4 separate regions of the Homo sapiens genome follow, and all the other regions are linked to region 4. Evidence: fine-mapped expression QTL. A gene starts in region 4. Each other region holds a variant in brackets. All regions are shown on one strand. Distances are from middle to middle.

Evidence for each region.
Region 1: its variant is fine-mapped to the expression of CRMP1 in lung (TOPMed, PIP 0.95).
Region 2: its variant is fine-mapped to the expression of CRMP1 in tibial nerve (GTEx, PIP above 0.99).
Region 3: its variant is fine-mapped to the expression of CRMP1 in testis (GTEx, PIP above 0.99).

The regions. Positions count from the first base shown.
Region 1 is chr4:5,910,388-5,918,490 of GRCh38, forward strand. It overlaps a transcript of C4orf50 not described here. Among named protein-coding and RNA genes, the nearest start is that of MIR378D1, 8.9 kb to the right of the region's middle. RefSeq lists an enhancer at 2,234-2,859. The variant T/C (reference allele first, on the strand shown) is at 3,128.
Region 2 is chr4:5,814,671-5,822,773 of GRCh38, forward strand. CRMP1 (collapsin response mediator protein 1) reads right to left here. Exons shown (of 14, transcript NM_001014809.3): 14 at 6,094-7,181. The coding sequence ends at 7,090. It also overlaps a transcript of EVC not described here. Among named protein-coding and RNA genes, the nearest start is that of CRMP1, 74 kb to the right of the region's middle. The variant T/C (reference allele first, on the strand shown) is at 3,570.
Region 3 is chr4:5,709,721-5,717,807 of GRCh38, forward strand. It overlaps EVC (EvC ciliary complex subunit 1), which reads left to right and starts at 1,481. Exons shown (of 21, transcript NM_153717.3): 1 at 1,481-1,834. The coding sequence starts at 1,661. RefSeq lists silencers at 1,440-1,489, 1,540-1,689 and enhancers at 2,160-2,229, 2,815-3,124. The variant C/G (reference allele first, on the strand shown) is at 3,622.
Region 4 is chr4:5,889,849-5,897,951 of GRCh38, forward strand. CRMP1 (collapsin response mediator protein 1) reads right to left here and starts at 3,238. Exons shown (of 14, transcript NM_001014809.3): 1 at 2,741-3,238. The coding sequence starts at 3,121. It also overlaps a transcript of C4orf50 not described here. RefSeq lists enhancers at 355-1,099, 1,100-1,843.

The sequences.
Region 1 (8,103 bases), 21 kb after region 4:
AAAATTTAAGAATCTCGTCAATCTGTTCCATCTGGTCACTAATTTTTATATTTTAAGTAATGTTTGTGTTTATGATCCACATTATGCTATAAACAGAATTAATGTGAATTGTGGTGTTTTTAATTAACATACTAGTTATTCCTAAGGAATTATCTAGAGTGTGTCCTTGTATAATCAGTTGAGGAAAGAGATTTTCAAAGAGAAAATGACCCCACAATAATCACCCCACTCGATCATGGCTGAGCTTGGAGTGGCCTCCCCAGTTCCTCAACCAATAACCTCTCTACCTCACCCCCTGCCAGCATTCTTCAAGAATCTTCTATGTGTGTAGCCCTGGGCAAGAAGCTTTTTTGGTGTTTGAGGGGAAATAAGATAAAGTCCCTGCCCTCAGGTGCTCTCTTTTTTGTTGTTGTCAGTGGAGTGGGGGGGATACCTCTCTATTGAATTTGAAAGTAGCACCATGTCCCTATTTGTCTAACAGATGTTTCATCAGAGCCAATGGGTTTCTTCCCTTTCTTTCTTTTTTTTTTTTTTTTTTTTGAGACGGAGTCTCTGTCGCCCAGGCTGGAGTGCGGTGGTGTGAACTTGGCTCACTGCAAGCTCCGCCTCCCGGGTTCACGCCATTCTCCTGCCTCAGCCTCCCAAGTAGCTGGGACTACAGGTGCCCGCCACCATGCCTGGCTAATTGTTTTTTGTATTTTTTACTAGAGACAGGGTTTCACCATGTTAGCCAGGATGGTCTCGATCTCCTGACCTCATGATCCACCTGCCTCGGCCTCCCAAAGTGCTGGGATTACAGGCGTAAGCCACCATGCCCGGCCTCTTCCCTTTCTGTGCCTTTCGAACTTGTGGGGTTTTCTGGCCCTTCTCAAAACCAGAACCCCCACATCGAGTATCTGTGGTGGATGGTTGCCCAAACATGGATGTGTCCTCTGATGGGGAGCCCACCAGCTGTGCCAGGGAAGTCTGTTTCATGGACAACTCCAACTATTGGGGAATTCGTTCATGAGTGAAGTTACAATGAGACTTGCTAGAATGTGTGTGAAGCCAGGGAGGGAATGCTTCACATGTCACTTACAACCCCAGCAAGGGATCCCTTTACAGAGAGGGGCCTCTCTTCAGATAGGTAAGCCTGGTTCCCTGGCTGCCTACAGGTCCATCAGAATGACAAAACATGCAGAAAGGCCCAGCTTGGCCTGCTTCACCACTCAAGGTGGCAGGATCCATTTTGCCTGCCCCAGATAAAAAGATGAAGAGGAAACTTGCTGCTCTCAGGCCCTGGTGGGGAACAGAAATAGAGAACCACAGTGGTGAGCTAGCAAATGTTTAACAACTGGCTCTCAAAACAAAAACAAAAACAAAAACAAAACAAACAAAACACTAGGCGTGGTGGCTCACGCCTGTAATCCCAATACTTTGAGAGGCCCAGGCGGGCCGATCACAAAGTCAAGAGATCGAGACCATCCTGGCCAACATGGTGAAACCCCGTCTCTACTAAAAATACAAAAATTAGCTGGGGATGGTGGTGCATGCCTGTAGTTCCAGCTACTTGGGAGGCTGAGGCGGGAAAATCGCTTTAACCCCGGAGGCGGAGGTTGCAGTGAGCCAAGATTGCACCACTGCACTCCAGCTTGGGTGACAGAGCGAGACTCCGTCTTGCAAAACAAAAAAACAAAAAACAAAAAAACCACACAAACAAACACAAACAAACAAAAATACCAGACCTGATTTTCGGCATTTTTTAATTTCCGTGGTGTAAACACTCCTACTATGGCTGATTTTAAGCTGCTGATATGTTGGTAAGAGACGCATGCAATTGGCTCTCAAAAGGCATGCAGGAAGAGCCAGCTCCAGTCTAGCACTCCACTCGTGTGTGTGTGTGTGTGTGTGTGTGTGTGTGTGTGTGTATTTGGGGAAGACATACATGTAAGAATGAATGAATGGATGCATGAATGAATGAGAGCAGGATACCAATTTTGCAAATGTAATAGGAAAAAATTGGAATGAGGAAAATATTTTTATAACTGCAGCAGATAGGCCTTTATGAAGAAAAGGAGCTGGGATGAGTGTACAAAGCATTTTCAGCAGTGTTTCTACCAAATTACTTTCAAGGAAATGTATCTGTCCTTGTAAAAGGGGTATGATGGTGAAAGAGTGCACCAGTGTTCTAAAATGCACCCAGTATTTTGTTTTAATAGGGTATGGTAATGTGACAGACATAGAGACAACTGTGTTTGAAAGAAGAGTTTATTACTCACAGTTCCCTAGAGGAAGGGGCATGCCACACCATGCAAGGCCACAGAGGGAAGCAGGAGGCAGAGGAGTGCAGAGAGAGCCTGGCCCAGAGCCTTTATTGTGAGTTCTGCAGGAAGAAATGGGTGAGGCAGGGGAGGCAAGCCTGAGCATGCCCAGTACTGGAGAGTTTTAAAATTGTTGCATGCTCTGGGTTATATTTTTGCATGTTCTCTAGTTGTTTGACACCTGGGCCTGGGATGACATGTGGCAGGGGAAATGTTGGCTTGGTATGTTAGATAAAGGAGGAGACTGGAAACCTGCCAGGCTGTAGATTGTCTGGCTTGCATATGAAAGGCGTGCTCACAGGGGAGTCATTTCCATCTCTAGAAATTAGCCAGCCCTGGCAGGGGCCGTATCTCTCTGGCCAACAAGGCCCCAAGATGGCAAAACATCACAAACTATAGAAAATAAAATTTTATTAATACAACCAGCTTTGGAACCGACTACCTGTGTGGCCTAGGGCAAGTTACTTAACCTCTTTCTTCCTCAGTTTTCCCATCTGTAAAATGAGGATGACAACGCCTACCTTATGGGGCTGGTGTAAAGAAGGAGATACTCAGAGGCCTTAGCAATGGCAGAGCTGGCATCTGATCCTGGGAAACTACTGGAAACTCCAGACCATAGCTCCTTGATGAGGAGGAGGCCGTGTCTCTAGTGTTCTGCACAGTGCCTGGGGAATGGCAGGCAGGCAATGACTATTCTGGGAACACATTTTGAGTGAGGGTAGTGAGGGTCAGAGAAAGCTCTGGTGTGTAGAAATAGCATATACTATGAAACAGATGAGCCTGTTCAATTTCCATGAGCTTCCTAATCACATGGGGAATGGAAAATA[T/C]AGATGAGATAAAATGCTTTCTTCTCAAAATGCCCTAATATTTTGTTTCAATATCAAGATTCATTAGAGCCATTTCACTTTCGCTGTCCTTAACATTCCGGTCCAATTGATGGATTCGTTCAGGAGTCAGGGTCCCTTTGAATCTCATTACACTAGGGCTCCTGGGTGTATTGATCCTATTTAGAAATAAGGCAGTAAATCGTCCACAGACGTTGGGACCAAACCTCCAGGCTGCCAAGGGAAAGAATACAGAAAGCGGGGCTTTCTCGCTGCATTGTCTGCTTTTAATTTAACTTTTAGCACAAGTTTGAATTTCTGAACCAACAATAGGTATCAACAGCTTTAAAAATGTTTATTCCCTTGGAGACAATAATTCAATTTCTGAGAATCAATCTCCAAGAAATAGTCTTCTATGAAGACAAAGATTTATAGACAATGATAGTCATCTCATTACCCCGGCAGCCCAAATGTTCAATAACAAGGGTTGAGAAAGGTTCATGCTATGTAATCATGAGAAGTAAAGTTTATGAAGACAATGATAGCATGAAAAAATGCCTACAAGACTAGATGAAAAAGTAGATAAAATTGTATATTGACTATGATTATGAATATTGTATGGAAACTTACCCGCAGGGATAAAAAAGAATATGAGCCAGGAGGTTAACAGATTTTGTTTTTGTTTTTATGGGTGTTTTTTTTTTTTTTTTTTTTTTGGAGTCTCGCTCTGTCGCCCAGGCTGGAGGGCAGTGGCGCAATCTCGGCTCACTGCAACCTCTGCCTCCCGGGTTCATGCCATTCTCCCGCCTCAGCCTCCTGAGTAGCTAGGACTATAGGCGCCTGCCACCATGCCCAGCTAATTTTTTTTATTTTTAGTAGAGATGGGGTTTCACCGTGTTGGCCAGGATGGTCTCGATCTCCTGACCTTGTGGTCCACCCGCCTCGGCCTCCCAAAGTGCTGGGATTACAGGTGTGAGCCACCGCGCCTGGCCTTTTATGGGTTTTAATGTTTTCTTAACTGCTTTTCTCTGTGTTCTAGTTTTTCTGTAATAAGCATACATCACTTAAAATTAATTATCACGGTTTGAATTTTTAATACCTATATAAGTTTACCATGTCCTCTCTTACAAAGCCAGCAGATCTATCTGAAGAAATGTGTGCGATGGTGCTTCTCATTTTTCGTTTGTTAGAAATACTTAGAGGGTATAATGTCCTATTCTATAGCATTAAAGTTATTTGTACTTGATCTCACTTGGACATAATAACCTTGAGCTTGTTTTACAAGGCTGAGTCAGTAAGTTAATGTAGCCTGGGATTTGCTTATGCACACAGAAATTCAGATAAAAGCCATTTCCATCAAATCAAAAATCAGATGAAGGTGCCATCTCATAGTCTATTTCCCTACTAGGATAAATTCTCCTGTATTTCTAATGAGTTTTAGTTTAACCTTGATTGTCTGTCTGGTCACTTCCTTAATCCAATGAGTAGCTCAGAAAGTAATTACTCTAAATTCTACACCTAAAAATATTATCTTCAATATACAGGACAGGCACCGCAAATGTCTCTGCCCTGCTTCCAGTTCAACTCTCCTCCTAACGACCCTCCAGGGAATGGCCAGAGGGATCTTTCTAGACTGTAAATCTAGTTCTGAAATACCCCCTTCCTGGGTCCACCTGCCTTAAGAGCCTCAGTGGTCCCTAGGGCCATGCCAGGACCCCCTTCATCTTGCCTGTCAACATCACCATTTCCCATCATTTTGTCCACACGCTTTAAGGTTTGATCATATCCAGTTCCTGCCATTCTCAGACACAGTTTGTTCTTGATACCGTTATGTGCACACATGCTACTAGGGAAAGACATGGTTCATTAGCCAACCAACAGCTACTCCCAGTTCCTTTCTCCTTTGTCATCTCCTAGACTAGAGCTTGGAAAGAGGGACCTTGGCTCTCAGGTAGGAATGACCATGGGACACATTTGTGGGCATCCCTGGCCAATGTATGCTGGAGGTTTGCCTTTTCCTTTCGTCTTGGGACACAGTTGTGAAGACTAAAGCCACAGCAGCCACCTTGTGACATGAGGCAGTGACCACCAGGAAGAAAGGCTAGCAAACTGAAGACAGTGGTTCTGAAGGATGGAAAGCAACTGAGTGGTCGGTAGCATCACCAAGGTACCAAACCAGCCCTGATGCCATGCACTTCAGTCTCCCTGATGAGTGGGTAATAAACACGTGCTCGTTTCAATAGGATGTGTCCTGTTTCTTGCAGCTAAGCATCTCCTGCCTGACTCACTCTTCCATCACAGGAGGTAAGTTCAGTGCCTGGAACATTCTAGAAGCTCAATCCAGGTTACTTCCCTCTCCTCTTTTTCCTGAATGTTCCTTTTAGGCTACACTTACCTGCTGGGAAGTACACTGTACCTAGAACCATAGATTTCACTGAGATAGACCAGGTTTTGTATCTGCAGGCACAATTTGGCTGCTTGTGAAAGGAACCAAACTGAAGTTGCCTGGGCAAAAATGGCACAGGAAGGCAAGGCTAGTCCTGTAACAAGGGATGGGTGTGCAGCTACCACAGGGGCAGAGCTCAGCTCCACACAGTAGTGACCAGGGACCCAAGCATTGCCAAGAAGCCCTACCATTTTCCTGGTTCCTGTGGGCTGTGACTTCTTTCTTATTCTGTCCTGGCTTCCCTCACTGGACAGGGAACAGACGCACCAACAGCTCCTGGTTACTCTGGGGGGCCCATGCACAGAGAATCATAGTTTCAGAATGAAGAATTCCCATTGCCTTGCCTGGATTTTTTGTCTGGGTGTTGACCAATCAACTAGGAGAGGGGTGGGGCTTAACCACGCCGAACAGACAGCCTTGGGTCCCTGCCCACCACAGAGAAGGCTGGGAGCCAGGACCTGCCCCCAGAGCTCAGACCCCAGGCACTGGGTTGTTTTCCCTCACATCGCAGCCCACTCCCTTCTTCCCCAGGACACAGAGGAGAACCAGGTTGCCTTCAGGGCAGGGTGACTCACCCAAGGGCAAAGCTATTACTCTGCAAGTTTCTAAAAGCTGCCTGTCTTGGATTGGGCACCCTCAAAAGCAGAGCCTGAGACCCAGACAGGGGTGCAGGTGGTTTATTTGGGGGGAGATCCCAGAAGTAGGAGTGAGGGAGCAGGGAGGTGAGACAGGGAGGGCAGAGAAGACAATATCCAGATGGGTACTGAGGTCACTCCTGCAGGAAATAGGGTCACGGCCCCGAGAGCACTTCTGTGAAGAGCACAGAAGGCCTCGCAGATCTTCTGCTTAGAGGACAGGAGCCTCTGCTTGAGGTGGGCACAAGCAGAGTCTGAGCTTGCCAGCAACAAAGCACTGCAGCTGAGAGCAGAGGCAGGCTGGGGACAGTGCCATCGGGCCCAAACACATCACTATGTGGACTGAAGAGGGTGGAAATCCAGAGCTGGCTTTCCCTAGAAGTTGGAAGTTTCCCTGGTTCGACACCAAATTAGCCAAACCTAAGTAAAGATTTGGCCACAGGAAAGTGGATCCAAGATTTCCAGATCACGTACATCATGCCTACGCTACCAGAGGCCCCCACATTTTTTGATATAATTCTCAATTTGTATGACTACTGTATCCTTATCCCACTGTTATAGATGAGGAAGCTGAGGCTCAAGAGTCATTGAGTAACTTGTCTAAAATCTGAGAAGGTGAGCTCATTCACACAGCCCTGCTTAGCCAGCCTGGGGCTGCAAAAGCTAGACATTTTAAATCTTTAAAATAAAATGTGTTTGTGAACCATAATATACAGGAAAGTATAACTGAAAAATATACATGATCCTTCTTAAAAAGAATAACAACCTGAAGCCATTGATGCAGGAAAGTCGTAGGTTTCAATTCCTGTATTTCTTTTTTTTTTTTTTTTTTTTTTTTTTGAGATGGAGTCTCGCTCTGTCACTAGGCTAGAGTGCAATGGCACGATCTCGGCTCACTGAAACCTTTGCCTTCCGGGTTCAAGCGATACTCCTGCCTCAGCCTCCTGAGTAGCTGGGACTACAGGCACGCACCACCACATCCAGCTAATTTTTGTATTTTTAGTAGAGACAGGGTTTCACCATGTTGGCCAGGATGGTCTCGATCTCTTGACCTCGTGATCCGCTCACCTTGGCCTCCCAAAGTGCAGGCATGAGCCACTATGCCTGGCCAATTTCTGTATTTCTACTGAAAGCTATAGTATGTTTCTTTCTTGAGCCTTGAAAGCACACACCCAACCCCAGAAGGCATTTAATTATCAAGCACTCCAGCATTTCAGCTGTGCCCACCCCGGTCCTGGTTTGCACAGGTCATTAGAAGTCATCCTGCCTTCGACTTCCATAAATCATCCCAGGCCAAGCAGGGGCCCAGGCGAGAGGTGGCGTGCAATTGGCACAGAATGCAATGAGATGCGGCTGGTCATTCATCAGAGAGCCGGGGACTGGCCCGACGCAAATGACGACTAAGAAAAATGATTCTAGGGCCCCGAGGGTGAAGCAGGTAACGAAAGGGCAACATTTGATAAAGAAACTGTGCTGTCACTTCTGCTGTCAGGAAGCTCCGGGAAGAAGCCCTCAGAAACAGTAGGCCCCCCAAACTCAAAACTCAACCACAAGAAACAAAAGAGGAGGCGAGGTCATATCATACAACCACCTCCCACCGCAGCAGGGATGGTGAGCTTCAGTTATCACACAGCAGAAAGAACGTCAGCCAGTTCAAATCCAGGTAGCACAATTCACACCTCACGTCCCATTTCACAGATGGGGAAGTGGAGTCACAGAGTGGGAGGGCCTCGCTCAAGGCTCTGCATCTGTTACAGAAAGCAGTGCTGCTGGAATTCAAACCTGGGTAATTTCACTTCAGAACCACATTCCTAACTGGTCCACACCGTCACCTTTGGAAATAAAAACAACCCAATGTCCTCCCACAGTTAAGGATTTGCAAGTGGCTTAAGTGGGCT
Region 2 (8,103 bases), 75 kb before region 4:
TCCCTGTCTTCTCTCATGGCCTCACATGGGCCACACCCCTGCCCCCCACTGGGCCTTTGCTCATGATGTGCATTCTTTCTGGAAGACCCCTGCCCCCCTCCCCAGCCCTCTGCCCAGTGGCTCCTAGCCACTCCTCACATGGAGTCAGGACTCACATCTCCAGAGATCCCCCTCTGCCCCCAACCCTGAACAACATCAGGGCCCCCCTTAGATTCTAGGTCCTGTGTTCTTTGCTGCTGGGACTGGGGTGAGGTCGGTGGGGGAGCATATAAATAACCTTCCTTTATTTCTTGTCCAAGTTCATCACTATACACAGAGGTGTACAGTGAGACCCACATAAACAATCCCACTAAACCCAACTCAACTGGCCCTTACCCAGATCCTCCAAATGTCCCAGGCCTCCCTAGTGTCACCTGATATGCAGTGGCATCAGCAGGAAAGGGAACAGTGGTCTTAAGGATTGCAGCTAAAAGATCTGACTGTGGCATTGTAAACTGTAAGGAATGTGTCAGTGAACCCGTGGCTAAGCCCACTCCCGGGTCTCGGTGGGGTCTGTGCACAGGTGGCAGAAGTGTGAGCTCCATGAGCTTTACAGTGAATCAGCTGTGGGGCACAGAGGGCAAGCTTTTCCTCCACCCTACGAAGGCTCCTTGAGAAACAATTGACCAAAGGCAGACCAATAGGAAAAAGAAAAGCATTCCAACGTAACGTGCATGGCATGGGGAATTGCAGGAGAGTGATGACCCCACAAACCAGTGAGGTCCAGGTGCTTCCACACCCTCATAGGGAGACGGGAAATGGGGGAAATGTGGCCGTTTAGAGGGTAAAGCGTGATTTATAGGGGGAACGAATCGATCCAGAGGCAGGCACTGTCTTGGGAGTGATCCTTCCCAGACTGGCCAATCAGGTATTTCTCCTCCTCCCCAGAGAAGAATAAAAGAGAGAGGGAGAGGGGCCAGGGAAGTCCCTTGTGCTGTCCCCCAGAGAGTGGAAGCCCCTCCCTCTATGGAAACCAGAGGAGTGGGAGATGGGATTATTCTCCCCTAAATGTTTCCTCTATAGCCCTTAACAGAGTGTGCAGTTCGGTGCTTTGAGTAATCATTTGATTCGCACCTGACGTCCCCCCTGGAATGTACACCATTGACCGGCCACATGCCACCTGGCATATAACAGGCATTCATGGTCACCTGGTGGAAGGAAGGGAGGGAGGCCTGGGAATATTCCTTTCCTCCTGTGGCAACTGGTTTGGAAGGAAGGGAGGGAGGAACGCTGAGTATATACTTTCCTCCTGTGGTGTATGGATTGGAAAGGAAGGAGGGAGGGAGGGAGGCCAGGAATACTATTTTCCCCCCATGGCTTATAGATTTGGCTGTGTGTCAGCATTACCCAGGGGCTCATTAAAAACAACATTCTTAGCCCCATCCCAGAGATTCTGAGTCAGCAGATTGGACAGGAGGCCTGGGGATCTGTTTTTTCCCCACTGGGCTCCCGCTGATGGACTTGGTCCACTTCCTGATGCACCTCCTGCCCACCGACATAGCCTGCAGTCCAGCCGCTGGACTTAGTCTGAGGTGAGCTCTTCATCCGCCTTGTTCTGGCTGTGGTGGCCATGAACATGTACCTCTTGGGTCCCCAACGGCAAGGAGCAAAAACGACCAACATCCTTGGGATTTCCTGCCGTGCTCAGAAATCCTTCCCTGCGTGAGCATGGAGGCCACACTTCCTGCAGGGTGCTCCCAGTGCCTGCAAGAGGCAGGGATGTGGAGGCCTCCTTAGCCCACATGACAGGGCTCCTCCAGAGGACAGCCTGGGCCCCAGGACTTCTTGCTCTACCTGCTGAGATGTAGAACTGTGCAGCACCAGAGTCTTGCCTCCCTCCCTCCTTTCTACCCTCTCTTCACTCCCTTCCTCCCCTCCCTCCCTTCTTTCCTTACCCCCTCTGTCCTTCTTTTCTCCCTCCCTCCTTCCCCTCTCTCCCTTCCCTCCCTCCTTCCCCTCTCTCCCTTCCCTCCCTCCCTTCCCTTCTCCCCTCTCTCCCCTCCCTCTCTCCCTCCATCATGGGGCTGTCAGCTGCATCGCAAATCTGTGGGCTCTGCCTCCTCTGGCTCTCTCCTCATTTTGCCTCACAGATATGTCCCCCAGTACACATCTTGCCCACATCTAATCCTGGCTCAGTGTCTGCGTCTCAGAGGACGTGGACCAAGGCACTTGCCGTCTCAGGCTTAGTTGACCCTTCAACCTCCTGAGAACTCTGGGCCCAGGCAACCCTAGAGAACTGACTCCTGTCCATGTTCTCCTTTCTCTGGAAACCACTTAGCTGCCTCCGTCATGCTCTGGGCAAAGGCAGGGCAGGTTGGGAGAAGGAATCAGTGAGGCTGAGGCCCCAGCCTAAAGGTCACAGGGCCGCCTGGCCCAGGAGAAATCCCCTGCACCAGGCATTTGCCCACATGGCTACAAGTGAACGTTGGGATACGGAGTGTTCTTTTTTGCTATGAAACTGGAGTCATGGAGGTCCTGGTCGACATTCTTCCTTCCAAATACAGTGGCCTGGATGGGGGAGGGCAGTGGCTATAGAGGCTTCCTGCACCGTGTCGGGGCTCTTGTCCATTGCAAGCTGGGACCCCAAGCTACCCACGTGGTGTTTGGCTCCCGTCTGATAGGGAAAGACTTTGAAGTCCACATCCAGGCATAATGGATAGCCAGGCTGCCTAAGTGGTTTGATAGATCTCCCAGAAAATTCCCAGATGGACTCTGGACGCACAGCCATGCCACAGCTTTCCTCCTCTTGGGAACAGACTACCAGTGAGAGGCTTTACTCTGAAGCCAGGTGCACCAGGGCCCCTGTGTCTTTTCCTCTAAAATCTCTGCAGGTCTGCACTAAGAGAAAAATAGAAAGTTCAACTTGCTAAGAGCCCCTTTTGCTTAGGAAACTTCTTTTCATGGTTTTTCACTTCATAAATGGACTTGATTGGAATGAACCTTTAGGCAAATGACACTGTCAATGGGCATCACGGCCACACTCTGCCTTGGAAAGAGTAACACAGAGGAGGGTTACGCACTTACGTCAGAAGAGTAGCTCTGTTGAGTCTATAGAGATTTGGCCCCAGGATAAGGGTAGCACCTTCTCTTGTCCACTGTCTATGATCAAGGTGGCCAGACCAACCCTGGGGGCTAGAACATGGTAGACCCTACTGGTGACATCTGAAAATGGTTTGGCTTTACGTAGATGAAGGAAAAGTATGTGCAAAGACCTTGCCCATTCTGTCTCACTTTTTAAGAGTCAATATGCAATCTGGAGGCAAAGATAGACAAACCAACTGATGTGGTTTGGCTGTGTCCCCACCCAAATCTCATCTTGAATTGTAGCTCCCATAATTCCGTGATGTGGGAGGGACCTGGTGGGAGATAATTGAATCATGGGGGCAGTTTCCCCCCATACTGTTCTTGTGGTAGTGAATAAGTCTCAAGAGGTCTGATGGTTTAGAAGGGGAAACCATTTTCACTTGGTTCTCATTCTCTCTCTTGCCTGCCATCATGAAGACGTGCCTTCTGCCATGATTGTGAAGTTC[T/C]AGCCACGTGGAACTGTGAGTCCATTAAACCTCTTTTTCTTTATAAATTACCCAGTCTTGGGTATGTCTTTATCAGCAGAGTGAGAACAGACTAATACACCAACAAATGCAGAGGGGCCAGAACCACCCCTTCCTGGGACATCAGAGCCAACAGTTAAGTGGTCTGGATTCCAAACTCATTTACTTAATGTCGATAGGTTGAAATTGGCCATGGCAAGAGACTTATGTTGAAACTTAATACCCAATGTGGCAGTACTGAAAGGTGGGGCCTGTTAGAGGTGATTGGGTCATGAGGGCTCTCCCTTCATGAATGGATTAATTCATTCATAGATTAATGTATCAGTGAGTCAGTGGATTAATGGGTTATCATGGGAGCGGGACCAGCAGCTTTATAAGCAGAGGAAGCGAGACCTGAGCCAATACACTCAGCCCCCTCACCATGTGATGCCCTGCACTGCCTTAGGACTCTGCAGAGTCCCCACCAGCAAGAAGGCTCTCACCAAATGCACCAGCACCACCCCAACCTTGGACTTCTCAGTCTCAAAGTCTGTAAGAAATGAATTCCTTTTCTTTATAAATTACCCCATCTCAGGTATTCAGTTACAGTGATGCCAAATGGACTAAGACAGAAAATCGGTAACAGAAGTGGGGTCCACAGAACTAGCAAACACTACAAACAAGGGCTTTCTACCCCACCCACCTTCACCCATTGTTCAACATTGATTTGGCAGCACACTTCTGGACCACTGAATCAGAAGGGTCAATCACCTGACTTACAACAAAGGCCCCACTGCATCTTAATGGGGGAAAGAATAGTCTTTGCAATAAATGGTGTTGGGTCAATGGGAGATCATATGGGAAATGGAGAACCTTCAGTCCTACCTTATATTGTACATAAAGATTATTGAGAGATGGCTCAGAGACCTAAATGTGAAAGATAAAACTTCTAGAAAAAACCCAGAAGACTACTGTGGTAGGCAGAATAACGCTCCCCGTCCCTGCCAACAAGATGACCACATCCTAATCCCTGGGCCTGTGAGTATGTTATGTCACATGGCTGGGAGAATTGGGTTGCAGATGAATGAATGAGAATAGCCTTCCCCTAAAACTTTCTGAGAAACTCTCTCTCCCTCCTCCCAAAATCTCAAGAGGTAAAAGGAAGTCACATGCCTTAAAAGGAGTGTTGCAGCTCAGTCTCCAAGAACTAAGGATTATCTGAGCTACCAGGTCTCCTGTCCCCTGTAACTGTGCCTCTTGGAGGCGCTGGGGAACCCAAAGTTCGACATGGGCTCTAGATTATGCTGGTTGGACAGTGGCTCCCATGACCTGGGAGTCAGGCAAGCACCCCGTCAGAGTCTGTCTTAGAGAAGGTGCTAGGGCTGCTTCTGCTTCCACTTCCACCCTGACAGGACTGAGGAGGCCAGGCCCAGAGAACAGGCTGGATAACTTCATCCTGCCAACTTTACTTTTCTGGAAGTTTCCCTTTAATAGTCCAAATGGGCCAAAGCCGAACATCAAAAATCCTTACCATCCGTTCTTGGTCTTTCCATCCAAAAATCCTTACCATCCATTCTTGGTCTTTCTCAGTAGTTAGTTAACCTTGTTTCAAGGAAGTCTATAACTGACCCTGAGCCAACACTTCTTTCAACCTTGACAAAGGTATCCACACGAAGCCGAGGAGCGGGGGAGGAGAAGGGTACATGAAAAGCCCTGCGTTGATGTGGGACCAGAGCATCCAAAGCCATCTGCCTCAAATGCCCTTGGAGCTCAGTAATTAGGAGCAAGGAGCTTTGGACTAGGGCCCAAAGTGCCTGGGTCCTGGATTCAAATCCTGGTTCCATCACTTCCTAAGTGTGTGATCCTAAACAAGTTATTGATCTCACTCTGAGTCAGTTTCCTCATCTGTACAATGGGGATAATAATCCCTACCTCATAGAGCACCTGGCATATAGCAACTGCTATACAGCTATCAGCCCATGTATTTGTTGTCATTACCAGCAACTTCATCACTATCACCAACACCACCATCATCATCACCACTATCGTCACCATCATCACCATCACCACCATCATTACTGTCACCACCATCATTGTCATCACTATTACTAACAACAGCTAATGGAAGCAAGCAACTTTGCCTGCTGTTTTTATCCGTCCTTTAGTGTATCTCTAGCTCATGGAAATGGAAGGAAGAAATGTGAAGTTTAGGAGATTGGAGCTTCCAGTCTGAGGCTGATCCATACAATACAAGAAGAAAGAGAGCCAGGAAAGGCCCAACAGGAGGGAATCAATGCAAGATTTGAGCCTATTTTGTGGAAGCCCGCCCATCAGCCGTCTTCCCTCTCTTCGCCTCCTTGGGTCTCAGGAACTCAGCCTTCAGAAGTCATGAACTGAATCTCTCCTCCCACCCCCACATCCACCAGTCTCTACCAAGAGTGAGTCCTCAGGAAGCAGCCACCACCATTCGTTATCACGCGGGGGGACTGCCAAGCATTCGTACCCAATCCAGACACCACCACTGAAATGAAAGTGCCCTAGTCAGGTCAGTGGGCAGTTCATTTTCTTTATTTTTTCACAAGCTTTGAATTCAGAAATAAGAGCCACAACAAGTTGGTTGTTAAGTAAAAATGGGAGTGATTACAAAGGAAAACTTTGTACAAAACTTTAAAAATCTGACTGCCCCGTCAACTGCCTCAGAGGGACCAGGACTCAGGCCACGCAGGGGCAGCCATCAGCCCCCCATCGTCAGCCCCGAATGGGGATGGGGAGACCTCTTTCTGAGTGTGAACCTGGCTCGGCCTGAAGCCTAGAGCTGGCTTGAAGAACACACACAGACCAGAAGACAGCACGGTGAGTTACAAGTGCCACGGAGACCAGGGTTTCTGACACAGGATGTGGAGGATGCTTCTCTGCAACCTAGTGCAAGGCTTCCCCTGCCATTCCGAGAATTCACGGATCTCACAGGTGGAGGTGGGGCGAGCTTCTTTCTAGTGTGGACCAGAGGTGGGGGCAATGAGTAAACATCTTCACTGTAAGGGTTTTGGGACTGCCCCTCAGGGCTTGAGGTCTCGGCATCGTGTCTCAGTCAGTCCTTGGCGATGTCCCCTCAGACGCACTCACAGACTTGCATACGTAATTTAGTAACATGCATCAACTATCCTAGAACATCTACAGGGTGCAAAGGAACCACCACTCAGAGAATCATGGAGCCAGTGGAGTTAGAAGTGGAAGGGACAGAACAAGACAATGCTAAAACCTGTGGTTCACTAGGAAGGGGGAATGAAAACACCATGCTCCGAGGTGGATTCAGCATGAACACAACTGTGGGGCAAGGAATTTCCAAGCAAACACACCACACTAGTACCACTTCTTCCTAAACAGAAAAGGGAAAGAGCATCCTTCGACTTCCCCCTCCCTCCATCAGCACCAACTAAAACTGTGGGTTTCAAAAACACTGACAGGAAAAGGGATGGACATGATTCCCAGAATCCTTCAGGCTAGCTCCTCCGCGCATCCACGTTCAACCGAGGCTGGTGATGTTGGAGCGGCCACCAGGGGGCGCCACGATGCGGTGGCCGGTGCGCCTGGGATTGTTGTCATCTATCTGGGCACCTGAAAGAGAGCGCCAATCGCTGCTGGATGGGATCTGTTAGCATCAGTTCCACGCTGCTCCTGGAGGCCATGTACTCTGCCATGCACTCCACTGGACCCACCTTCATTCAGGGCTCAGTCCAGGACCAGCCATGGGAAGCCTCCCTGGCCTCCACAGAGTCCACTGCTCCCTCTTCTGTGCCCCTCAGTCCCTGGGCTCCCCCCACCTTCAGCCCTGACCACCTTGTGGTGTTCTTGTCAAAATCCCCAGTAAAATCCGACATTCCTGAGACAGGTGATCAAACACTTACTGAGTGCCTACTGTGTGCAGGCGCACATTTGGTGCTTTAACATGTTACTGCATTTAGGGCACACAATCATACTATGAAGGGGGTGTTTGTACTCCCAACTTACGGGTGAGCAATTTGAGGTTCAGGCCACGTGTCTTGCGGGACACAGGTGTTGGGTGGGGAAGCCAGGATTGAAGCCCAAACTGGTTGGTTTTCAAAGCCCATGATCTTAGGCACACTGTCCCACACTCCAAAGGTATTTTACATATTGTGTGTGTACACATTTGTATATGCATGTGCATATGTGTGTGCATGTGCATGTGAACTCCGCAAGCTGGATTTACTTCCCTCATTGGCGATAGGTGGATCTGAAGGGGGGGGGGGTGGTGTGCAGAGGTTCTTAATTTTAATCTTTCAAAACCAACCATCCATTCTACTTTTACCTATTCTCTTGCATAAAGATGTAAAATTCTAGCAGCAAACCCAGTGCCTGGAGCTCAACAAATATTTATTAAATGAGTAAATCATGAAGGGTGGATAATGCTGAAAGGTGGGAAGGATAGAGTCCTTATCAGGGAGGGGAAGTTGAGCCGGCGGAACTGAGGAAAATCAAAAAGAGAAAGCAAATAAGCTGTAAGTCTGCCTTTCTTCAT
Region 3 (8,087 bases), 180 kb before region 4:
TTTAAAAAATCTCCTTAGTATTTTTTATGGAGTCAGGGTCTCACTATGTTGCCAAGACTGGTCTTAAACTCCTGGGCTCAGACAATCCTCCACTTGAGCCTCCCAAAGTGCTGGGATTACAGGCGTGAGCAACCACACCTGGCCCAAACACCACATTTTAAAAACTAAAGCCTAAGCATTCATGGAAATGTAAAACAAGAGCGTCAAGTTATTGCCCCCATACATGTCCCCAGGAACCTTGGAGATGCTTCTAAGGTAATATATAAGAAGCTCCACATAGCAGAGAGTTTGCCCTGAAGCCAGACACAGGTGTAAATGAGACAAGAATTCTGCCCCACTCCTTAATTGCAAATGAGTCACCTCTCCTCTCCAGCTGTCAGTTTCTTCATTTATTAAAAAAAGATGAAGAATTTGGATAACAGTTCCCATCTTGCCATGAGGAAATGATGAAACAAACTAGAAACAAGCTGGACATCTAGGCTGAAAGGACAAAGCCCTCCTCTGCTGAAGCAGATCCCCATGGTGTCCCCTAGCCCGGCCCACACAGGGAATTAAGCTCCACAGGGTAGGTGTGTGTGTGTGTGTGCCCCTGAGTGCAAGTGTGCAGTCGTGCATGTGCATGTGTGCTTTACCCAGGCACCCAGGACAAAAGCAAACATCTAGTAGCTACCCCATAAATGTTTGTTTAAAGCAAACACAGTGATGAACTCCTTTAATTTTTTATCACTCTAAACAACTGTGAGATACTCACTAGCCTGGACACTGCCTGGTTTGTGGCTGGCCTATCCCCCAGCCTGCAACACACACACAACAGATTCTCTCCAAGTGCTGAGTAAATGAAGGATGGTGCAGTGTCCTGGTCCTAGTGGGGAGCGGGTGTAAGGGTCTCTTTATCCATTGTCTCAGTGGGGAGTGGGTGTAAGGGTCTCTCTACCCTTGGTCCTAGTGGGGACTAGGTGTAAGGGTCTCTCTACCCATCGTCTCAGTGGGGTCTGGGTGTAAGGATCCCTTTACCCATCCTCCTAGTGGAGACTGAGTGTAACGGTGTCTCCACCCATTGTCTCGACCTTCCCTGGGACAAAATAAGATTAAAACAGGAGTCTTCGCGTGAGCAAGTTCAGAGGCGTGGAGGGCGGTGTGTTCCCGGGAAGGTTGATGGGTAGAGGTTAGGGGCAAGGGCAGGGGGTTGGAATTGCATTGATCCCAGCGTCTTCATCAGGAGGATGGGCGGAGCACCCACCGCAGAGGGTTATTGAGAAAGTTAATGAGATCATTAAGCTAAATGCGTAGCATATTCTAAGCCTCAAAAAACTTAAAGGAGCCTTCTAAGCCTCAGTAAAGTTAAAGGGGTGGAAACCGGGCCCCCCTCCGGAAGGGTCCGGGGCTGGGAGGCGCGTCTGTCTCTGGGCATGCTCAGTGCAGGGGCAGGGCTGGGGCGGGGGTGGCTGAAAGTTTTGAGCGGTGATCCAGGCTCCTCCCTCCGGCTCGGCGAAGCAGGGAAGGGGAGAGAAGCAGGAGTCGGGAGACTGCACAGGCCAGAAAGTCTGCGGAGCGGGCCGCGCCCCTGGCCCGCCCGGGCTCCAAGTCCCGCGTCGCCGCCCTGGCGGGGACGGTGCAGCAGGCGGCGGGATGCGGCGGGGCGGCAGCCTGAGCGCCCCGGATGGCCCGCGGCGGGGCGGCCTGCAAGAGCGACGCGCGGCTGCTGCTGGGGCGGGACGCGCTGCGGCCGGCGCCCGCCCTGCTGGCCCCCGCCGTGCTGCTGGGCGCCGCGCTCGGCCTCGGCCTCGGCCTTTGGCTTGGCTGCCGCGCGGGCCGCCAGCGCACGCGACACCAGGTGGGTCGGCCGAGCAGACAGCGGCGGGGCGGGGAGCGCGGGGCGCGTGGCTTCTGGGTCCTGCGGGCCCGGAGCCCCGGCTCTGCGACTCCTTGAGCCTGGTTGGGAACTTCGCACGCAACCGCTTAGGCGTCGGGTTCCCCTTCTGCTCCAGGAGGGAGGTGGCGGCGTGACTAAAGGGCATTGGCCTGGGGTCCCCTGCGGTGCCTGTTACATCCCACTCCGTTGGGTGATCCTTGACAGCAGCCCAACTGCGCCACGCCTCGGTCTCCTCATCTGCAGCACCAAGGGTTTGGACAGGACGCTGGCCCTGCTCGCCATGGTGGACAGAAGGACGGCTGGGGCTCCCACGCCTGAATGCCTATTCCTGCTTCTGCCTCTTCCATCCTTGCGGTGTGGGTTACGTCGCCTGGCCTGAGTCCCAGCTGCCACATTGGCATTCATTTTTTCATTCACCCCACAGTAAAAGTTTTCAGGCACCTTCTACAGCCAGTCACTGGCCTAGGGACGACATTCATGAGCGGGAGAGACCCTGCCTTGAGGCTGTGAACCTCAAGGAGAAGGACGAATTGCAAGTTTGCAAGTAAACTATCGGTTATGACACCGCATGGGGAGTCTGCGATGGGACGCTGGCAATGCTAGCGTTTATTAAGTGCTGTGTACCAGGCACTGAACTAGACCCTCTCCCTAAATGATCTCAATGAATCTCCACAACAGTTTGTCTCTGCTTTGCAGATGAGGAAACTGAGGCACAGAGAGGTTAAGCAACTTACTAAAGTGACAGAAGTGTCTAACCCCAAAGCCACTGTGTTCTTCATGGATGAGGGTCGGGGTGGCTGCCTGAAGGAGACCAGTGGATGCTTCCTATGCAAGTGGCCCTCATGGAATTGGCTGTGCATGGCAACACCTGGCATATAGCAGGCATTCCATGAATAGTGGTATGGCCACTATTTTAGGTCCTTGCAACTTCTGCCTCTTTGGGGTGGGAGGAGAGTAAAGTCTGCGCGATCAGAAACAAGATGGCGTGGTCTTGCTACCCCCATTTCTGGCCCGTGGGAAGATGAGACAGATCTTGTGCGGTTTCCATGTAGGCACAGGCTCTTTCAGAATATAGGGGAATTTGGTGACTCATGGGGAGCATTACACCGCAAAGAGCTGATGAGGGCTGAAACTGAGATAATGCAAGATGCTCGTAGGTGAGTTGGGGGTTGTCAGATCCTGCTGGTGATTAAGAGACACTAAGAGATGCTGGCTTGTTGCATGGAGAGAGAAAGGGAAGTAACACACAGAGACTTGGCTGGGTGTCCTGTGCAATGTTTATAGACATCTGGTTCTTTATCCTCCAGCCCATGAGGTGGAGGAACTGCCATTATCCCCACTTTACAGTGAGGCAGGGGATGCTCTGCAAGGGTGTTTGTCCAGGGTGCCACGATGAGTAAACAGTGGGACTGAATTTCAACCCTAGTTGGTTTGAACCCCAAAGCTAGAGCCTTAAGTATCTGCTACCTGGTGAGGTGGTGGTTAGTATCCCATTTGCTAGCTGAGTCAGCTGAGGCTTACCGGGATTAACCAAGCCATCTGGGTTTGCACAGCTAGTCAGTTGAGGGTGATGGTGGCTCAGACCAGGGTGGCAGCCATGGAGGGGTCTGTGGCTCAAAGTAGGACTAATAGGATTTTGTTACAGTTTGATGTGATCCTTGCGACAACCTTCTTTCTAATGAGATTCTTTTCCTCCTGTCTCCTCCCTCTAGTTTTTATTTATAAAATGTATGTCAGACAATATGATT[C/G]TCCTGATTAAACACCTCCAGTGACTCCTGGCTGCCTGCAAAAGATAATGCCCAGGCTGGGCACTGTGGCTCATGCCTGTCACCCCAGCACTTTGGGAGGCCAAGGCGAGCTGTTCAACTGAGGTCAGGAGTTCGAGACCAGCCTGGCCAATATGGTGAAACCCTGCCTCTACTAAAAATACAAAAATTAGCTGGCATAGTGGCAGGAGCCTGTAATCCCAGCTACTCAGGAGGCTGAGGCAGGAGAATCGCTGGAACCTGGGAGGCGGAGGTTGCAGTGAGCCAAGATCGCACCATTGCACTCCAGCCTGGGCGATAGAGCAAGGCTCCGTCTCAAAAAAAAAAAAAAAAAAAAAATTAGAGACCAGCCTGACCAACATAGAGAAACCCTATCTCTACTAAAAATACAAAATTAGCCAGGTGTGGTGGTGCATGCCTGTAATCCCAGCTACTGGGGAGGCTAAGGCAAGAGAATCGCTTGAACCCAGGAGGTGGAGGTTGCAGTGAGCCAAGATCATGCCATTGCACTCCAGCCTGGGCAACAAGAATGAAACTCCATCTAAAAAATAAATAAATAAATAAAGATAATGCCCAGTTTTCTAGCATGGTGCATACAGTGGCTTACCTTCCCCTGAGCACCTACCCTGATGCACAGGTGCCCAGCCACTTGCCTCATCCTGCTCTCCAGCCACTCAAGACACCTCGCTGTTCCCCGTACACCTCTGCACTTCTGCACATCTGTTCTCTCCGCCTGCGCGGTCCTTTCTTAGACTCTATCCTGCTCAGCCCTCAGGACCCAGAGAGATCACCTTCTTAACTAGGGAAGCCTTAACCTTCCACGCTAGATCAGGTACTTCCCTGCTTTGTAGGCACTGTTTGTTCTCCTCCTCTGTTCCAAGTCACAATTTTATCTTGCATTGCTTTCCTTTTGCTGTTTTTGTTTTATTTTGTTATTTTAACTTATTTCATCATTAAACCTGTTTTATTTACATCAAAGTTGTTCATGCACATAATTTAAAGTATTAGTTCAAAAGGAGCAATAGCCCCACCCATTTTCTACTTCTCAACAGTGGCCTTGTTAACTCTTTCAGCTGATTATTTTGGGAATTTACTTCCCATTTCTAAATAATGTGCCTATATTGCTGCTGCTTGCATTTTTTTTTTTTTTTTTTGGCTGCGTGCAATAGCCGTTGACCCTCCACTGTGGAAAGGAAGAGGACTTAGCTCTGTTGCCTCCCTTCCTCCATAAAATGTCCACTCTTCCCAACACCACCACCACACTCTCAATACGGAGGTTATAGGGGAATTTGGTTAAATTTGTATTCAGTGTTTCCATTATTACAATTCTACAAACATTATCTACTGCAAGTTAAGGATCAGTTGTGGTCATGAATACCTTCTTTTCTTGCACAACATTTTGTTTTTCCTGAAATTAATAGCTATTCTCTTTTTTTGTTTTTTGTTTGTTTTTTGTTTTGTTTGAGATAGGGTCTCACTTGATTGCCCAGGCTGGAGTTCAGTGGCATGATCACAGTTCACAGTAGCTTTGACCTCTTGGGCTCAGGTGATCCTCCCGCCTCAGCCTCCCAAGTAGCTGGGACTACAGGCTTGCACCACCATGCCTGGCTAATTTTTTTTTTTTTTCTATTTTCTGTAGAGTTAGAGTTTTGCCATGTTGCCCAGGCTGGTCTCAAACTCCTGGGCTCAAGCAGTCTTCCTGCTTTCACCTCCCAAAGTGCCAAGATCACAGGTGTGAGCCACCACATCTGGCCTTGGTTTTTTCATTTGCTTAGATTCTGTGTACTTATCATTCATTTAACTCTCCCCCACATATGTGCGTTTGTGTTCAAGACATTTGAATGCATTAGATATTTGATCCATTTTATCTTCTTGAGAAAAATATCTCTCCCAGAAACATTCTGACAAGCTCTAGTTTGAGCTGGTTATTCTCTAGACAGCTCTCTAAAGTGTGGACCAGACCAGCAGCATCAATATCTTGGGGAGCTTGATAGAAATGCATATTCTTGGGCTCTACCCCAGACTCACTGAAGGAGAATCTCTAGGGATGAGTCCAGCAAGCTGTGTTTAATAAGCCCTCCTGGTGATTTACATGTTCTTAAAGTTTGAGAAGCAGCTACTCATCATGCTGGGAGTTTCTCACGTCTCTTCTGGGTTGAATCCTGTTTCAGGGATTCCCTGGCACTCCCCTTTTGTTAGGTAATTTCATTGCATGCCTGGAGCACATCCTTCAGTAGCTTTTTCAAAAAGGGATGGATGCAACTCTTTTGAGAACTTCTATGTCTGAAAATATATTCTTCTATCTTTATACTTAATTTGGTAAGAATAATTAGATTGGGAATAATTTTCCTCCAGAATTTCGAAGGCATTTTTCCATTGTCTTTTTTTTTTTTTTTTTTTTTGAGATAGAGTCTTGCTCTGTCACCCAGGCTGGAGTGCAGTAGTGCAATCTCGGCTCACTGCAACCTCCACTTCCTGGGTTCAAGCAATTCTTCTGCCTCAGCCTCCTGAGTAGCTGGGACTACAGGCATGCGCCACCATGCCCAGCTAATTTTTGTATTTTTAGTAGAGATGGGGTTTCACCATGTTGGCCAGTCTGGTCTCGAACTCCTGAGCTCGTGATCCACCTGCCTCGGCCTCCCAGAGTGCTGGGATTACAGGCGTGAGCTACTGTACCCGGCCTCCATTGTCTTCTAGCTGTTGTAGAACCAAACTGGGTTCCACTCACCTGGCACAGTAAGACCAGATAGCGACACTGAGGTTTTATAGTGGTAAAAAGGGAGGTGTTTATTCACAGTGCACCAAGCCAGGAGGACTAGGCAGCTCATGCTCAAATCCTGACTGCCCTGATGACTTCCAGGTGAGGTTTTTAAAGGTAGAGGTAAATTTCAGGAAAGCAGAAGTTACAGGCAAAATTGTAAATCAATACATGAAGGTGACAACTGGTTTTGGCCTAAAAGGGCCAGACATCTTGAAGTGGAGGCTTGCAGGTCAGAGGTAGATTCAAAGATTTTCTGATTTGCAATTTTGTGAAGGAAGAGAAGCTTTGTTTTAAAATGTAGGTTCGGCAGAAAAGAACCTTAGCTCAGGCTCCTGGTCATGACTTCCTCTGGGCTCCCCAGGAAGAGCTTTAGAACAAAGAATGGTGCTCAGAGTTCAGATCTCAGATAAGGGGCAGCTGAGGACCTCAGCCATGGATCCTCAGAGTGGATCCATTGGATGGGGGTCCAGGTTTCTGAAAAACAACTCAGGGACATATGTTAAGATGTTATCTTTAGTTTCTGCAGGGAAACCAAACATCTCCTGACTCTAACTTCCTTGGCTATTGTTTTAGGCGACTATTACCTTCTTGCTTATCAAGTTGTTGATAATTTCCCTTGAAGAAAGTCAGGATTTTCCTTTATTTCCAGGCTTAGGGCAAGGGATTTGCAGGCCCTTAAAAAGGGGGGACTCTGCTTCATCTCATAATTTCCATGGTTGCTGTTGAGAAAACTGATTCTATTCTGATCCTTGATACCTTACACGAAACCTCTTTTCCTTTTGTTCCTCTGTAGAATCTTAAAGAACCTTTACCTTTGCTCCTAGTAAATGAAATTGCACCACGATGGTGTTGGTGAAAGTCATTTGTCATCCACGGTGCCAGGCATTTGGAACGTCCTTTTGATCGAGAATCATTTTCTTGATTTCTTTGATGATTCTTTTCCTTTTATACGTTTTCTTCTTCCAAGAACTCCTATCACTTTTTTAGGTTGAATTGGGCTTCCAATCTTAGTCTTTCTCTCTCACTTCGATTCTCTTTGTCTTTTTTACATTATCTTTGGAGAGATGTTTCTCAACTTTATACTTGTATTGAGTTTTTCATATTTTCAATTTTGAAGAGTCATTTTTTTGTTCTGAGAATGTTCTATCCTGTCCTTATTTTATGAATGGAATACCTTCTCTGATCTCTCTGATAATATTTTAGTTGTTTATTTGTTTAAAGTTTTTTTTCCCTGTGTAGTGCGTTCCCTGCTTGCTTTTTCCTTTTGTTTGTTTTGGATTTTATCTTTCATATTAGAGTCTGTCCTCAAATGGCTAGTGACCCTCTAGACATTTTCAAGTGATGCTGATGCTCCCTCTGTGGGATATATATATTTTTTCCTCAATGTCTTTACTGTAGGACTATCTGACTGGGTTCTTCTTTGCAGGACCCTTGTACTGGTCTGCTATGGTTGGTAAACAACCCCCCAAATCTCTGGCTTCATCATCCACCCCAAGACCCACGACAGACTGCTGCATCTACACAGGTTTCTCTCTATGCCCAGCATGGGCCTGCCTCCAAGGCCTTTGCACTTGCTATTCTGTCTCTAGAATGCTCCTCCCTGAGATATCTCAATGGCTCATGGCCTCACTTCTTTTAAGTTCCTTCTCAAATGCCGCTTTGTCCAAGAGACTTTGTCTCCCATCAT
Region 4 (8,103 bases):
AAAATAGAGGTGAGGTTTTAGCTTCACAGAGAAGCCAGCTCAGTATCCCAGGAACACTAGGCATAATTTTCCCATTTTACAGACAGGAAATTGAGGCTTACAGAGGTAAAATGATGTACCCCGGGTGCAAAACATATTAGCTGCAGCAAAGCAGCATGGAGATGCCAGGTTCCCCTACACTCTGTTTACAACTCATTTCCCTCCACGCATTCATGCATCCCTGGCTCTCAGCGGGGCCTAAAATCCCTGTCAATGACCGGAAATTGCAGATGGGGACACTGTCCCTCCCCAACTCCTACACTCCCTTCCTTGGAGTTGTTAAGTCCTAGGTTCCCCGTACCAGGGCGTTCCCTGGGGTCAGTCTGGAGATCTGAGCAGAAAGCCCCTACAGCAAGGGACAAGACCACGTGCGTATCAGGGGGAGGAGCATCCGCCTGCCACTGGCCAAACAGATCGCTGCTCCCAAGCAGATTTCGCCGGTACAAAGCGCCGCAGCCGCTCAGCCTCCGGCAGCGGCAATCCTTGCGCCTGCGCCGCAGAAACCCCTCCTGCAGCCCAGGGAGAAGCCTGGTGGGCGGGGGGGGAAGGGCCGGGGCACCCGTTGCGAAGCCCTGGAGCGGTGAGGCCCGCCCCGGAACCCGAGCCCACTGTAACCCAAGCCTCAAGGCCGCTCTGCCGGCAGAAAGTAAAACCCTCCCTCCGTGGAGATCGCGAGCCCCTGAGTTCCACAGTCGCGAAGCTCGAGTGCTTTCGGAGCCCCGGGAGCGCCAGAGGCGCTGCCTTTTGTCCGGTGCCTGAGAAGCCATGGAGAAAGGCAGAGGGGACCACAGGGAGAAGAGGAAGGAGTAGGGGAGAGGAACGGGAGAGGTGAAGCGACCAGCGTCCCCAAGGGTCAGGGCGCAGCTGCGGGGCTGGCCCAGGCTGCGCCCTGGGGGAGATGCTGGCGTTGGTGACATTGACCGCAGTTCCAGAGGAACTCTCCTTGGGACAGCTACGGGCCGTGCACAAAGCGCCCTCGCCTCCCTAGTACTCCACCACGCTTTGAGGAAGGCCGGAAGAAGACGGCCACCCCCATCTGACAGATGGAGAAGCTGAGGCCCAAGAGAGCAAAGCGCCTTGGCTGGAAACCCGGATTCCCTGGTGCTGGTCCCGCTTCTCGGCCCGCGGCCCAGAAGCCTCCCCATCGGGCTCGGGAGTTTGGATCCCAAGAGAGGTCGGACCACCAGGGAAGGTAGTGGACAGGGGGAGATACAGAAGGGGTGGGGGAAGAGGAAGCTGGACTCTCGCACCATCTCCCTTTCTGATCACCCCACCACCACACACACATACACACACACACACACACACACACACACACACACACACCCTTGCTGTTGGACCTCTCCCTCGCGAGGCTCCGGCTTCAGGACCACGGAGAGCTCTGGAGCAACAGCCCGCCCGCGAAGGGATGGGGCCCGAAGAGGCCCACCACCGTGTTTACCAGTTCCCTGCTCCTATTCCTCCAGGAAGCCCTCCCAGATATCTGCCCCGATCAAGCTCTGCTTCCCTCCAGGCTCACTTTGGGTCACTCATAGCATTTAAGAGGGGAAGGTTTAATTAAAATGATAATGATTGTAATAAAAGTCAACAACAAACATTTATTGAATGCTCACTACCGACCGGCATTAACTGATTTAATTCTCACAATGAATCCGTCGCTCACCCTAGCCTGGGAACTTCTGGAGGGTGGGGCCAGGTTGCTGAGCCAGGGACCTAGCGCCTACCCTGGGCCTGGCACCTAGCAGTTCTCCGGCATCCAGGTCTGGACCAATTCGAAAGCTCCCCAGCCCTCGGATGCTCCAACTTCCGTTTTTCTGGCACCTGACCCTGGCTCTCGTCGGTCCATCCAAAGGCTACGCCGTCCATCCGCCCTTCTTCCCCCAGTTTCCTGGTGACCCCCAGCTCAAGAGAGAATACCCGCAGGGCCCAAGCCCTAGCGTTCCCTCTCCCTGATCCTCCCGGCCCCATGCTCAGGTCCGGGAGGCCAGAGACCCCAGTTCAAATCCCAGCTCTACCTCCACCTTGCTCTGTGAAGCAGGCACATCGGTGTGTGCTGTGGAGCTCAGGAGTGCCCCTTGAATCTACTGGCGCTTGAGGGTAGGGGTTTACGGCTCCAACTGCCCGACGAACTAAATCCTTAACCAAATCCTTCCCCCCAGCAAGCATGAGGGGAGCGCTCGGAAAAAAAGCTCCTTCCAGCTTTAAGCTGTGTGGCCGCAGGCGACTCGCGGAACCTCTCCCGGGGCCCGGCACACAGTAGGTGCTCTATAATTACTACCGACTGAGTGGATGGATGAATGGACCAACACGGAACGGAGCTCCAGTTCTTTTCACAAAACAGAATGAGGGGCCTGGGTTAGATTCATCCCAGAGGTTCCTTCGCGTTTAAGCGTCCATGCGGTAGCTTTAGCCAACTTCCCCTCTCAGAACCTCTCTCCCTTTCTGTAGAAGAGGAGCCGGGACTGGACCCGGGCGATCCCTTCCGAGTCTCACGGACCACGCCGGCCAGCCCCGACCGAGTCGCCCCAGCTCTGGGAACCTCTTGCATGATGAGGTGGGGGAGGGGCCGCGCCGTGGCTCTCCCCAGCCTGGCGGCCGCTGCCCCAACACCGGGGCCCGGGCATGGCCCTCGGGCGCCCCATGCCCTGGGTCCTCCCGGGGCCCGCCCCCCTCGTCTGGCCCGCGCGCGCCCCGAGGGTACCTGGCCATTGTCCCGGCCGAGGGGCAGGTCGCGGGGCGCGGGGCGGCGGATGCGCAGCGTCGGCGGCCGCTCGTCGCGCTCTCCGGGAGAGCTGACCGCGGAGCCCGAGGGCTCGCTCACGTCGCTGGCCGTGTCCTCGCTGCCTCCCGGCCCTGGCAGCCCGACCGCGTCGGGCCGGCCAGCGCTGCGCGGCGTGCGCGCCGAGCCGCGGCGGCCCACACTGTAGGCGTCGAAGTCGATGGTCTTGTTCTCGTAGGCGCCCTCCACCGCGGCGAACATGCCGCCGTACTTCTGGCGCGGGGTCTGCGCCGCGCTGCCCGGCCGCGCCAGGTACACGGGCAGGTCGTCCTCGGTGTTCCACGCGCGCCGCCGGTCCGCCATACCCGTCCAAGGCCGGCCACCCACCGCGCTCCCGCCTGCCCGCCCGCGGCCCTGGGCACCGCCGTGCGCCGCGCTCCGCGCCTCGGTGCGGGCCTGCGGCGGCCCGGGCGCGACTGCGGCCCAGGGAGGGGAGGGGCGGGGCGTGGCGCGCGCCGGGGCGGGGCCGGGGCGGGGCCTCTGGGCGGCTGCGGGCTAGCGGCGCGGCCAGCTACAAAGGACCAGGAGGCGGGGATCGCGGCTGGGGCGGGGAGGGACGGTGACGCTCCCGAGCCGCAGCGCGGAGGGCGGGCCGCGGCACCGCAGTGCCCTCGCCGCACCCCCCACTCTCCGCCCCCAGGCGGAGCGCAGGGCGCGAGGAGAGCGCGGGGCAGGAGCCGTGTGCGTACACTCGCGCGCCCACACGCTCTGGAGGCACACGCGGGTTCATACCTGCACACCAGACAATTACGCCAAACACATGAGAGATGCACAGACATGCTGGCACACACACGAGAGTCAATCACACATGCTCTCCAGAGATACACAGGGGCTCGATCATGCACACCATACTCAATGTTGCACACACATACACATATATGCTTGTGCACATTCCGAGTTCATTACAAACACACAACAGAAATCCTCATTGTCTCACAACCCCACTCACACACAGTATCACACCAAGATTAATTGCACAACTGGAGAGGCACATGCGTTGGACACACCGTTCATTCCGTCAGTTTTATTTTGCTGAGCGCCCACTAGTGCCTAGCACTGTTGTAGGAGCTGGGAACAGAGCCATGGACAAAAGAGACCAAGTGCCTGCCCTCCAGGAGCTGACCTGCTAAGGAGGGGAATTGGATACAAAAGCACCCATATGGTGGGCCAAGAGGTGGTAAGGGCCAGGAAAGGTGGTGCAGCAGCCAAGAGGGACATGCTAGAGGCACACTCCGACAGACACATAAGAGAAGCACATTCTTGCATGAGAATCAGCGACACACACATACACGTGCACGCCAATGACACCACACAACACACCAATATCAAAGGCAAGCTCAGGGCGATTCCACACATGTGCATCATAAACTGGCAACAGGATGCCCACACACAAGTCCACACCAGTAATAAAGGAAGTCAAAAGCTTAAATAAAAACGCTCCAGAGAAAGACACACAGAGACAGAGATGACCACACACACACAGCTGGCAGTCAACCAGACAGACAGATATTCCCTCATTCGAGGGGCACAGTCCACTTTTGTTGCTCCTGGAGCTTGCAGTCTGGGCGTTCTGGGGTTTCTCTGTCGTGGAGGTCGCTCTGCTGGGGCTCTCCTCTAAGGCCAGGCACCACCTGCCTCCTATAGACACCTTCCCTTATTTCTCCACGATTATCAGGCAGAGGATCCTGCAAGTCCCTGGGGACCCTACAGTCCCAGCTGCACTTCCTGGAGAGGCAGAATCGCCAGCTGCCGACCCCCTCCTCGAGCCAGTCTAGACAAGCAAAGTCAGGACTGGGTGGGGACTGCAGAGGGGAGCATCAGTGCTTCTTGCAATGTCCCCCCACCCATAGCCTTCCATGCTGGGAGCTGTCCCTTCAACCCCGGGCCCTGCCAGCTGCAAGCCAGAGCTCCCGCAGCGTGACCAAGCTCCAGGAATACCAGACAGACAGATGGATTCATGTTCTTGTTTTATGACTCTTGGGCCCCATGGACTGAGGATCCTGGGGCCGTCGGATCCGTGGCCTCAGCTGACACCTCCCTGAAGCTACTGTCTTTCAACCCTGCAACAAGGGGTCTGTGCAGCAGGTAGGTATTTTTACCGGCCCCCTCTTGGAAGAGGAAACAGGAGGGGAGATGTGAAATGGCTCCCTCAGGGCCTCAATCTCAAGGAGGTTCAGCCAGGCCTAGAGCGTGGGCTCATCCACTCGGTGGGCATTTAGCAAGTTATTTTTCTGTGCTTGAGAGAGAGGCTAGTGTGGGGACACAGATGAGTATTTCTAAGTCTCTGTCTTCAACAAGTGTTTACTCTCATGGGGGAGAGAGTGCTGAATGCGAGAACAGAAAGTTCCACACACAGCCTCCATCTACCTTCCACCCACCGCAGCTGCATCCTGGCTCCTCTCTCCTTGTGTCCCTGGGTCCACTGTGCAGATTTGCCACAGACACTCCTCTTGAGGCCCATCAGCCTCCAGGCTATCTTGCAAGTGTTTTCGATTTTTCAATGAAAATTTTTCTCTGTCCTGTGAAATACTATTCCCAGCCCATTCCAGGCAAGAACAATTCATGTCGAAAACCACATAGAAATTTCTTCTAAAACCCCACAAATGTTCAGGGTGACATAACCCAGAGAAATATCAGAAAACTCAAAAGTCTGAGTTAGGTGGAACTTTGGAGGCCAGGCCTCCTACTGCATGCTTGAATCTGCTCTCAACATCTTGAGGACACAGTCTCTCAGGCTTTGTTGGTGGTGATGGAAATCTTACTGCTTCTAAAGAAAACCCTTTCCATTGTGAGAAAGGGCTGGGCAGTTGCCAAGACTAGAGGGAGTGACGCAAGGAAGGAGCTGAGAAAGTGCTGTCTTTATGCAGAAGCAGGAAAGGATCTTCATAGCTTCTGCTTATAGAAAGTTTACTACGTGCCCGGACCATGGTAAGCACCTAACAGATAGTAACTCTTTTATGCCTCGCAGCAACCTTGAAACTGCCATTTTAGCCTCATTTTACAGATGAGAAAACTGAGGTTCAGAGACATAAATAACCTGTCCAGGGTCACAGCTGGCAAGTAAGACTTCGAGGTTTAAACAGAGTAGTCTGGTGCCAGAGTCCACATCGAAACAACTACCCTTTCCTCTCCCCAAGAGCCTGACTGAGGTGGTCCCACTGGGAGATAAGAGATAAAGGGACCTAGTTTAGGCAGAAGAGTCTAGGTGGTTGAGTTAGAATCCTGTTTTGCATGCAGTCTTGGGCAACTAATCATTCGACATTCATCTAACACACCTTTGTGGCGCCCACTGCGTGTCACTGACTTTATATCACTTCCTCTCACTCTTTTCTCCCCATGCAGAGGAGGCGATCGGACCCTCCTGAAACTGCATACTGTGTATAAGGGTCCTTGCACACACAGTTCATTTCCGTGCATCATGCTCTGCCTTATACACTGCTGGCTCCCTCAGGCAGCCCCACGTGGCGAACCAGGCCACTTCCATCTTCAGGCTGGAGCGCTGAGGATGACAAACCTTAAGCCCATTGCTCAGGTTAACCACCGGGAAGTGACTAACCTGGGATTTCAACTCAGGTTTGTCTGAGTTTTTTCCACACCATCTCATCTCAAGGTCAGTAACCCAAGCGCAACAGAGAAAGGGAGGAAGGAAACAAAACCCAGGGTATAAAGTTGGAAATGCACCCTCCAGCTTGCACGGAGACAGAAAGGAGCAATATTTGCCAGGGACCAACAGAGGCAGCAGGGGAAGCCTGAGATAACTGCCCCCATCCTGACGACAGCTGTGACCTCCCCCATCCCCCAACCCATCCTCCAACTGCTCCTAGTCCTCCTGGGAAGGAGTTCTTATAAGTGAATTACAGCACTACATTTGGTGAAGGACAAACCTTGAGCTCATCATGTCAGACATGAAACCTTCTTCCTGGGTGATGGCAGAGAACAGAAAGGGACACGTCAGATGGGAGAGGACAAGAGGCCAGTTCAGGTCCGATGTGGATTTTGTTTCGGCAAACCAAAAAAAAAAAAAAAATTCGTTCATTCATTGCAAAAAGAATGTTTTCAAAAAATGAAGGAAAGGGGATTGTAGTTTATCATCAGGTATATAGTAATGGATTATTGTCCTCATCTCAGATATAAGAAAAGATGTTCAGAGAAGTTAAACAAGTAAACATGTTCGGTTACATGGCCAGCAAGTGACAGAGATGCAGTTCAAATCCAGGCTCATTTGATTTTTAAATGTCTGCTTTTTTCTGTGGCCTCCAAATTAGTACATATGGGACTGTGGTGGGCAGAATAATGATGCTCAAAGATGCCCACACCTGAATCCCTAGAACTACTGCCCATGTTACTCCACATGGCAAATGGGACTCTGTGGCTCTGCTTACAGATCTTAAGATGTGGAGATGATCCTGGATCACCTGGTGGAGCCAGTGTCATCACAAGAGTCCTTTTAAGTGAGAGAGAGGCAGGAAAGTCGGAGTCTGAGAACGGGAGATCAGAGAACAGAAGCAGAGGTCAGAGTGAGAGAGATTTGAAGAGGAAGGAAGGGGCCACAAGCCAAAGAATGTGGGCAACTCCAGGAGCCAGAAAAGGCAAGGAAACACTTTCTCCCTGGAGCCTCCAGAAGGAAGGCAGCCCTGCCAACATCTCGGTTGTAGCCCAGGGACTCTGACTTTCAGAACTACAAGATAATGAATGTGAGTTGTTCTAAGGCAATGGGTTCATGGTCATCTGTCAAAGCAGCAATCAGAAATCACTACATGATTATAAAGGAAATCATTTAATTATTTGTGCAAAGTGGATTTGAGTACCAAGAAAAGCATTTATTCCCCACCAAAAATCAAGGGAATCCTAGCTCCATTGCCTTTTTCTGTTACGTCAGGGTCGACAACACTTTGTAACAAACCATCAATAAATAAAACATTCAGAAGGGAAAAAAACCCTTTAATTGTGAAAAAGCATACATTTTAATGTACAAAATTACACAAATTATACATTTAACTCACATAGAAAAATACATCTCAGTAACAAGAGAAAATGCCGGCCTATTTTACACAAATGGAGCGATCATTACAAATCCTGAAAACCCAGAGGGAGGGTTGAGCCCGACCCACAACTGGTCAGGAATCCAGTGAACATCTCCACGGACTGATGGTTTCACTGCAGGCAGGCCCCGGAGGATAGCTGCCCCAGGACCCGAGGCAGGTCCTGCTGAAGAGCTTCCGGAGGGGAGGTGTCGGGTCCTGTCGCTGGACCACTCCCGTGTGAACCAAGGCAGCTCACTCCGG